Linked DNA regions of Homo sapiens: region 1 is linked to region 2. A link means that fine-mapping ties the variant in region 2 to the expression of a gene that starts in the linked region. Tissue or cell type: skeletal muscle. Region 2 holds a variant in brackets; the other region holds the start of a gene. All regions are shown on one strand. Distances are between the middles of the regions.

Region 1 (5,395 bases), 54 kb after region 2:
CACCGTTTATTAAGCCATTAACAACAACAACCACCACCTCCAAATAAAAAATTCCACCTACTCATCAGCATTCTAACTCAGCATGTTGCCTGTGACAAGCGACACCCTGAAAAAAATGGTCCTTTGAATTGTCTTGCCAGGAAGGTGCTATTTCTGGTATAGTTACATGATTTGGGGAGACTATGGGTAAATCTTCCAGTCATACACAAATGTCCATCATCTGGCATTCGTAGGTGCTGATCAAATCACCAAACTCACTGGCACACACTGAGTGGCAACACCGGGGGCCTGGAGTGTTGGTATTTCTCAGACTGAAGTGGGCACATTACTGATCTCTGTAATCCACAAAATATGTATGTGAGCTTTACTAAGGTTAAAGAGTGAATCCACTGTTCTTAGGTGTCATCTATTGCAATTTTAAAATAAGGCGGGTTAGATTTAAGAATGTGTGTCTGGCATGCAAACTTTCCCTGGAAAAGGTCTAAGAAAAACTGAATTAAATACTGCAATGCTACATTATATAGGAGTTTGAAATCAGAGGGTTGAGTATCTACTTCAAGTCTTTTCCTCTTGGTTAGGAACTTAGGAGGTACCTCAAAATATCAGATCTGGTCTGTTTCAAAAGCAGCACTTTTAATAAATAGCAGAAAAGCAAATAAAACACTTTTTCCTTTTTGTAATAAATCATTTTGGTTTTTTTTATAGATTGCATGTGGCATTTGAGGCAGAGCGAGCAAAGCTGCCAATATTGCAAGCTGATGCTTCAGCACCTTTCATTTTTCTCTGAGCAGGAACCCTCTTCTTAAACTTGTTCATCTTACAGAGAGAAAATCGAAGCCACTGGCATATTGTCAGAGCTGCTTTATTGTCATCATTTACAAAGGTCACTGGAATTAATTGACTTCTTATATTACATGTTGTAAACTGACTCATTTTTTTGACACATTTATGGGAAAGTGGCAGGATCTAAGTGGCTGGTTATTGTCTTTTTGCTTTGGCTTATATTACAAACTAGGAAACCAATAATAGCTCTGAAATCACAGTTGTGGAAAAAAATAACCCACAGTTTCAAAGAAGCTGACTCTGTTAACTGTGTGGTTAGTTGAACTAAAAGAAGGCAGGAGAGAGCTCCAGAAGATGAAATACAAATGCTAGGTTTCTTTTACTGTCTTTCCAGGACCCAGTAAAGAGGGCAGTGAATGTTTCCATGAATATCCTCAATTGGTGTTGTCTGTTTGAAAGCATATTCTAAGTAGCTGGCTTCCCTTTACAAGATTGGAAGTAAAAATTAACCCACACTGAATTCCATGAATCATCAATACATGGATGCTCATAGAGTTTACTGAGAGTAATTCTGTCTCAAAGGCATTGCTTCTGAAACTAAAGATGAGAAATATATCAGTAATATTTATGGTACCAGAGCACACTATTTTCTAGGTAGATATTTTGAACCTTTACTTCTATTTTTGTTTTCACATTATCCCCTTTTCACTAAATTAGGACGGTTCTACTCATATTCATAGCCTGCTTTCACTGAAATTAGAGGCAGAGAAACAAGGACATATTGTTAAAAATGAATAAATTAGAGCCGAATTAAGCCATCCAGCTCAACAACAGCAAAGGGAATATAGCAGTTGGTTAGAACAAACAATTTTCTTAAATAGGAAATGTACTTTAAAGCCATCCTGCTGTGATCCTGTTAATTACCAAAGATTAGAACTCTTCTGGTTCATGGGATCCTTTCACCTAGTGTGTGGCAGTTCCAGCTGCATTAGCAATCAGACATTTGCACTGTCCCTTCAGACCAGCGAGGGGATGTTATTAAAGGGAAGTCATTTACCCCAGTCCGTAAGATGTAGCCTGGCAGAAATTCAATAACTGTTTGTGATATGCTCATTCTGCTACTCTGCTTAGTGGTTTAGCTCTTAACATACAACAGCATTTGCCTTAATTTGCATCCACTGGATGAGACAAAATAAAAATGCCCCATTTGGTGGGTTGATTTCAAAACAGAGAATAATGTGTGATCTGCTTTTCACTACAAATAATGTGAAGAAAAAGGAAAATTGCACCCCATCACCCGTGACTCTCCTCTCCTCTCTGTCTCCTCTCTGTCTTCTCTCTTCCCCATCTCCTTCTCTCTCCCTCTCCTCCTCTCTTCTCCCCCACTGTTCCCTTCTCTTCTGTCTCCCTCCTTTTTCTCCTCCCCCCAACACTGCTTTTTCTCTCCCACTCACATCCTCTAATGGGCATTCAAGCTAGTAAAATGCATGTTGGAGAATCTCACAAACACAGCTAGGCACACACAGAGCCAGCTGGGTTTTGCATGTGAATTTCTTCTCAAAAGTGCAATAAAAGAAAAATGCTCTTAGAATTCAGACAAGAAGAAGACATCAAAGGAGGATTTAGGTGTAAAAACATGATCATCGAAGAGACAAGAAATAGAACGTATTTTAAAATATATGTGTATTTTAAACTTACCTTGAAAAGCAGTTTCAGTGCTAGCCCACCTCCGATGTCCTTGCGTGCTGGATTCCTCAGTTCCTTGGTTGAGATAATCACATGGTTGTGTTCTTGCCCGGTATAAATAGGTGCATTTGTGTGTCTGTGTAACAAAGTGTACAAAATATATACTATAGATATGCACACATGCACGCAATCTTATCTCTCTATTTTAAAATATAAAGGAAGGCAGGAGGCTGCAGCCGGGATTCCTTCTTTTTCCTGGAACTCTTTTTCTCAGTCGGCAGGCTGAGGCTCTCAATCCAGTGAAGAGAGATCCTGTGAGCTGGCTTTATTTTTCCTTGTTTCCATGGTGGTTAGTGGTGCATCGTTCACCCGATCAGTTGTCACACTGACATGGTGCTGCCTGCTCAGCGGTCATTAATAACTGAACACCCTCCACTCCCCAGAGAGGAGCCAATCGCTTCAGACAGCCAAGATGTAGCACTCGCAGCTGCTCCAGTCTGGTTGGCTGAAACAAACTGTCTGTTCTATGACACTGCTGCTTAGGATACAAATAAATGAAACAGGCTTGCATGTTTTCCTAGGTATCATTTTCCTTCTTTTTTTTCCTTTCTGAGGGAATGTTGGGAATTTTTGACAAGTTTTCTCAATTTTAGGTTATCAGTCATTCAGAGAAATATGTTTTCAGTCTGCAAATAGAGAGGACACACTACTGATAAGGATTTCCTAAATATTAAAAACACCTGGTAGAGACTCAAACCTCCAACTCCGTCTCTGAAGTTCAGCAATGACTGCATTATTTAAGAAGAGAAGCTTGCAACTGTTTTGAGTGGCATTTGGTTCTCTATAGATCCTACTTAATTTAGCATATGTGCTTGGTGTTCAATAACACTTTTTTTTTTTTTTTTTTAGCAATGACATTTCTTGTCTGGATTGACCAGATTTTTAAAATAAAGCATATATTTGCCTCTCTGTAATTCACAACATTGGCATTTGAGGGGGTACTTTTTAAAAATATGTATTTCTAATTATACTCACTGACTTCTCTTTATATGATGTAATAAATCTAGGAGCTACATATGAATGGGTACATGTGTAGGTGTGTTTGTGTATCTGTGAGTGTGTGTGTGTATTTAGGATGTATTTTTTACCACTCTGGGGAAATATTTCGATTGTAATAAGTTAAATTATTTAAAAGACTATCTTTATTCTTAGGCCTATTAACTCTGAAAGGATATTTCCCAGGAAAATATACTATATAAGCCATACATGTAAAACATTTTTATTAATTACCAGAAATTTGGAAAACACAGAAACACATAGCAGTGCATATTTCTGAAAGAACATACATGAAAAATCAAAAAGCAGTTTTAAAAATGCATGTTTTACAACCTTAATTAGTATACTAGAGAAACATCTTGTTGAGGAGAATGGAACATGAGGATTAATATATCAACAGGTCAAAAGCAGGCTAGTCATGACTCCAACCCCAGTTTTGAGAGACTACCCTCTAGTGGAGTAAAGAGAAATGGCACTTATTAGATTTACTTAGGAAAAAAAAAACAAAACCTTCACATCTAATTGCTCCTTAAGTGCTTATTGACATGACATAGAACAATAGTTTGCAGTTATTATAATAATAATAATACCAGGAAAAATTTTAAACAGTAGGCTTGTCTTTAAATACTGAATATTTTCACTCTGTAGTTTTCTAGAAACAGTTCCCAAATGTTTTTTTCTATAAGAATTTATTCAAATGAATCAAAATAAGTTCAAGATAAAAGTAGCATCTCATTTAACCTAATACTTATTTCAGAATATTATTGTAAGGTTTTATTATTTACTGGATACTCTAGTATTTACTCAGAAAGCACTGAGTCAGTTCTGTATGTTAGGGATCATGGTTGAGTGTTGGGATGTTGTGTTAGAGTATATTTACATATAATTTAATGTACTTTTAATAATAGTAATAATCATCCTTCTTACCCCTTAATTTTAATCTAGCAAATCTTAGTTTCTTTAATATTCCAAATTATTTCAGTATCTGCAGGATTTATTTCCACATATGGAAGAATAATCTTAAAATTGTGATAATTATTTGTAAAAAGAGAATTTTTATTTATGCCATGGTATCTTAAGTGATTAATTTTCATTGATTGGTATTGACTGTATAATTGACAAGTCCAGTAATCAAACCAATTATAATGCACTCCCATAATGAAGGTAAGTTGTGATAGTCAGATACATGATTAAACTCCTCTCTTGGTTTTTAAATGAAACTGCAGTCATACCTAATATCTTAAATTTCAGTCTGTTTCAGAAATCAAGAAAAAATCTTTTCAGTTTTGATTCAGTTAGAATTGTTAAAGGTAGCCATTTATATGTTATCTTACATTATTTCATAGGAAGTTGTTTTAACTAAATGATCACTCTTTTGAAAGTGGGAGATCAGAGTGCTCTTCCTGCAATTGTCCTTTTAATGTAGGTACATGATAAATTTAAAATATTTTATACTCATTTTTATAAATTTAATATCATGGAGCACTAGAAATGAGATTTTAATGTGAAAGAGAAAATGACTCTGGCTTTGGATGAAAAGGATGGCGATTCTGTTCTTTGACTGGAATTTCTATCTTGTTCCAAGAGCATCAGCAGCTTTATGGAATCAGTGTGTGTTTTGGGTGTTTTTTCACTTATCAGGGCGTTCAGTCCTTAACTGTAAATATGAAATGTGGCTCTCTCCAAAGATACATGAAAAAATTATTTTGGTATCACATCTATATAATGAAGTACCATATGAAGACGTTACATTGTAATACAGTAAGGATTTTAGGGTTTTTGAATTAATACAATTGTGAGTGATCATCAAATGAGAACCATGGAATCTTAGCACACAGTTGGCACATTAAAGCCAGGATAGAGCCCCTCA
Region 2 (5,395 bases):
CTACCCTAGGGCTAGCAAGCACTGTCTACTTCTACTTTCTGTTTCTATAGATTTGCCTGTTTTCACTATTTCATGTAATTGGAATCATACAATATTTAACTTATTGTGAGTGGATTCTTTCAGTTAGCATAATGTTTTCAAGATTCCACAATATTTTAGCATGTATCAGAACTTCATTTATTTTTATTGCCAAATAAAATTCCATTGTATAGATGTACCACGTTTTATTATCCATTCAACAGATGATGAAAACTTGGGCTGCTTCTATTTTTTGCCTGATATGAATAATGTTACTATGAACACTGGTGTAGAGGGTTTAGCATAGACATATGTTTTCGGTACTCTTGGGGTGTATACCTAGGAGTTGAAATGCTGGGTCATATGGTAACTGTATTTTTAACATTTTCAGGAACTACCAAACTGTTTCCCAAAGCAGCAATTTAAAAGCATAGAAAGCTCACTGTTCTTAGCAAGATTCAGCTATTTTTCTTGAATAAATTCTTCTTGGAACATTGCAAGCATTTGTTTAACTTTTGGAATTCTGAAAAAGTTTATTTTGACAATTGTTTGTGTTTTGGTTGCTTTTATGGAGGAGTAGATTTTTGGAGGTCCTTACTTTACCATTCCAGAAGTGGTCGCTCCTGCCTCGCAACCACTAAAATTAAAACAGTCTGTCTATGGAGGGCTAGAGCCACTAATGTGCTTTCAGGCCCAGAGTGAAGCAGAGGACTCAGCCTAAGGAGTCTGAATCTCCATGGTGGAAAAGTAATGAGAGGAGAAAGGAGCTATGTCTCAGAGAAGAGTGCACTAAAGTGACCTACTGGATAAATCACTTTTTATGTGGCTGCTTAGAGATATTGCCAACAGGTGTTCTCATATTTTTCCATGCATGTTGATGTAACCCTTCCAGTTTACAAGTCTCTGTTGCCTACAGACAACTTTCAGTCAATGCTCTCATTTTGGAGGGAAACCGTTGGGAAAGATAAAGAATTTCAGAAAAGTCCCATGCAAGACCTTTATATTAATTAAACCAATTTCTTATTGATTTATGTGAACCATCAATCACAAGATATTTGAGGAAGATTCAAAACAGTGAATGTATAGGACTGAATTTAAAACAACAACAACAACAGCAACAACAACGGCAGCAACAACAGCCCCCTGACCTGAGAGGAAACAAAATTTAGTTAGGGAATAATGGAAAACTTATAGAAATTATAAATTCTTCCAAATAATTTGAGAGAATATTGAGTCTCTAAAACAAGATTAGCATCTAAGAAAAAGGAACAGATAATAAGAAATAGCTTTTAAAATTAAAGTGTGAATGTGAAAGTAGAAAACTAAATAGAAGAGCTCTGAAATAAAATGGAGCCACAGGAAGAACAAATTAATTATTTTGAATATAAAGCCAAGACCTTAGCCAAGAAACGTATGACACAAAGATGGAGCCAATGAAAGAAATGTTAGGAGATGGAGGATACATTTAGTAGTAGCAGCATCTGTCGAACTCAGTGTTACCTCTGGCACCCAGTTAAGGCTTCTGCCTCCAGAACACATCTAATTCAATTGCAGATAGAACAATATCGATTTGTTTTTTTCAAAACGTTTCTTTCTTAATTCCCTTTTTCATCCATTAACTTAATAAATATTTTTTTAACATCTTTTTACATTCCTGTTACTGTGTTGACCCGGGGCATAGAGCAGACTTGGTTCTTGCCCTCGTGGAGTTTACAATTTAGATGATAGAGCAGGATGTAGGGGCTCTTGCTTTCTGTGCAACATTTAATATTAACTCTGCCTAGGCTGCTGGAAATGCACTTCTAAGATGTTTGACTGTTCTCCTATTAGTTTTTGAGGTCTGGTTCTAAGCTAAACAAACAGGCTGTCATTTGGGTTCTAGTGGCAATTTCTGTACTCCCTATAAGTATGCTTATTTTTCTTTAGTGTTTTTCTTGGATTAGAGAGAGGATTTGAGAAGACATTCTTGATCCAGATAAGTGAAAGGGAATTTAATATTAAAAGAAAAATAATATTTAGCTCTTTTTAAAGCTAGCAAGAAATCAGAGAAACAAGATAATCTTCCCTCCCTCCCTCCCTTCCTCCCTTTCCTCCCCTCCCTCCCCCACCTCTTTCCTTCCTCATAAAAAACCATGTTATATTGACAAGAACAGCACAGATCCATCTATTTTGAATTATAAGTTTTTAATTAGCATTTGTAGTTCCCTGAAAGATATTTTAGCTATTGCACTCATTTGTGGGTATATTACATTACAACTTCTCTTCACTTATTTTTATATTCCTCTGAATTCATTTTTAACCTTCAGACAAAATTTAGTTTTTGTTGGTATTCCTTTAATCTCTCCTAAGTCAGTATATGTGCATTCTAGCTTCCATACTTTTCAATAATTACTCTGAATGGGCGTTGAATGATGAATGGAGCCAACATATCCAGAGAATAGCTGACTTTTAGCATTTGCCTTTAACAGCACAATTTGCCAAATGCATCCTTTGGAATAGTGTTTTTATTTGTTTATTTATTTTTAACTGCTCTGAGTTATACACATTGTTTTTCTCCCAAGTTTTTGCTTCATAGAATTGTGCTTCTTAGTAAGAAGTGGCTCATGATTCTAATAGTCCCTTAGTATTACTTAAGTCTTTGCAACCACCAGACTCAGCATTCACCCTGACGCGATGCTCAGTTGACACTTGAGAGCAAGTGGGAAGAGTTCACCTAATG[C/G]CTCATCTAGGGTACATGCTGTTCCTATTGTATCTTCTTACTTACTTGGCAGTCCATTGGAACAAATTGTTGATTTTATTATCAAATCCATTATCATTCTGAACTTCTTACTATCTCTGCTGCTGCTTGGCCTACCCAGACCAGAGCAATGGCCTTTTGTTTGGTCTCCGATAATTAATTCTTCCTAATAGAGCCAGTGAGTTAAATATCTAGATGACATTGTTTTCATTTAAATAGGTAATAGACATACAAAGATAAAATTGAAAAGGCACAACAGCCTATACAGTGACAAGTAAGTCTCCTTCCTGCTTCTGTCCTCCAGCCATGGTTCCTCTCTACAGAGGCAACTACACATATTCCCTTTTGACTTATGTGCATATGTTCACAAAGCTGCTTCTTGCTAGATGAAGATCCAAATCCTTAGTATATTTCATATACTTGCATGAGTATATGTCTTCAGTTGTATTTCTCAGCATATTCTCTAGTTTCCTCTCCTCCAGCCACACTGTACCTAGACATATTCTTTTGTTGTAGATCCTACCTTGCTTTTCCCAAACTCTACACAACATATGCACATTTCTACCCTGAAGGTTCTTCCTCCTTCTTTGCACCTATTTAGCTCAACTCTCCCAGGTTAGACAATATCTTCTCAGAGAAATCCTCCCTGAACCTACAGTTCAGATCAGGCCCCTTTAAGACAATATTCATGTTTTGCTTTCATAACATTTATCACAGTTTGTATTTATATATTTAATGATCATTTGCTTAATGTCTTTCTCCTTTGCAAGACTGTTAGTAACATTAGGGCCTGTGTGTTGCTCGACATTGTTTACTCAGTACTGGCACATAAATAGTTAAGAAACATCTATTGAATAAATGCTCAAGAATCCTCATTTGCTTGTGGGAGGTATCTCTTTCATTGTAATCCATTCACTTATTTCTTGTCTACTGTTTTTTATATGGCCAGTCTCCTAGAATTTCTGTCCCCCGTGGATTTAATATGTTTTAACTCAGCAACTCTTAAATAAGCGTAAGTATTTTGGATAGTAAGAAAGGGGAAAAAGAAGTGAAAACTGTAGGAACACAAAGGATGATCCTGTCACTTCTGAGATAGACACACTGTATTTGAGCTACTGTACCAATGAGCATTATGATCAGCTTCTCTATGGAAGGTATAATTTCTCCCTTAAACTCTCCAAATATATGTGACTCCCAGCTTATGTGACTTTCGAACTCTAAGATCCACAAGGGCAGAAATTATGATCTATCTTGCTCACTGCTATGTTCCTAGAATTTACGACTATTCCTGTGAGGTAGACATTGACTAGATATTGTCTAACTGGAAGTTTAAATTGAATGTGGCCATATTGTGTATTTACAGAAGTATTGTAGGAAGAGGAACTTGCAGTTATTCAGGGAAACTCTGGCACATTATGTTACTAATGTCAAATACTGGGGAGACATAGAGAAGTATTATTTGTGCTCATAGTTTTGGCTCTTCTTTTCTCTAGTAAATGTAGTAGGTTTTGTCACAACATGATGGGTTTGCCTTGTAAGAAAAATAGAGATTTTGTTAGTCCAGAAACAATCATTTTATTTGACAATGTTGCAGTGTATCTGTGACACTGAGATGGAAATAATAATTTTTTAAAGTTTTCCAAACAGGGTAGGGTAATGAATGAATAAGGGAAATAGAAAACTAACCATTTTAAAGCTTTGGTTAGATGATTGATTAGTGCATATGGGCTACTTTGAATATACAGTATCTGCACTGGTTTATTTCTAATGGACAAAGAGATTACTAGTGTTATTATTTAAAATGAGAATGCATTTTCTCACGTAGATAGCACAATAAATATCCTGAGATTCATATGGCCCTCATGGAGGATCAGTCACTGACTGTGGTTTATATTTACTTTCTGTGCCTTTCCACAGTTACAGTTATCTTTTTTAAAGGTATTATTCCATTTCTTGGCTTTAGTAAGAGGTGCCTGTAAAAGAATTCTTTCATTTGAAATCAGTGAAACAGGAATTTATAAGCAAAGGAAAATGGATTGCTAAGAAATAAATATTTGTGAAATGACCCAAGGTGAGTTTTAAAAAATGTGTTTGGATAGAGCATTTCTACTTTATTTTCTTAAAAATCCAAAATTGTTGGTCTTTCACGGGGAACATCTCAGTGCTTTTAGGATAACACCTGTTGTTATGGATTTATTTTTGGAATTTTTGACCTCAAGTGTGAATGCTGCATAGCCTTGTGTCATGAGTGTTTACCTCGCTTATTTAGCCTGGCGCAGAGGTTGGGGGTTGGGGGTAGGATTCCTCAGATATGTATTCAGAAAATTAAATTACTTCTTAGTAGTTATAACATCACAATTGCATTTAATATTTATACAGTATCATAATTATCTGTCACCTCTTTTTGAAATCCATGCTTTTGTTTTCTTCTCATTGTGTAATAAAATGGCAGTTTCCAAAGATGGATGTCTTTAGTTTTTAAATGACATGTTGATTTTTTTCATGATATCTGCAAATATTTTTGTCTTTTTTGACCTCAGAACAAATGTAAAGCATTGATTGGAGCACACACAAAAGTTAGGAAATATGCTGCTTGGCAACTGAGTAAAAGTAAATATATAGTCTCTTAAACTTCCAAAA

Alleles and levels. Positions count from the first base shown, and alleles are read on the strand shown. Sizes are in standard deviations (SD) of each study's normalised expression.
For the expression in skeletal muscle of the gene that starts at base 2,859 in region 1, allele G in region 2 goes with a lower level than allele C (small effect, 0.23 SD a copy in GTEx).

The links.
Region 1: it holds the start of LRRN3, and the variant in region 2 is fine-mapped to the expression of LRRN3 in skeletal muscle (GTEx, PIP 0.99).

Annotation. Positions count from the first base shown.
Region 1 is chr7:111,088,591-111,093,985 of GRCh38, reverse strand. LRRN3 (leucine rich repeat neuronal 3) reads right to left here and starts at 2,859. Exons shown (of 3, transcript NM_001099658.2): 1 at 2,482-2,859. All of the region lies in intron 3 of IMMP2L (inner mitochondrial membrane peptidase subunit 2), which reads left to right.
Region 2 is chr7:111,142,966-111,148,360 of GRCh38, reverse strand. The region is part of intron 3 of IMMP2L (inner mitochondrial membrane peptidase subunit 2); the gene reads left to right. Among named protein-coding and RNA genes, the nearest start is that of LRRN3, 55 kb to the right of the region's middle. The variant C/G (reference allele first, on the strand shown) is at 2,738.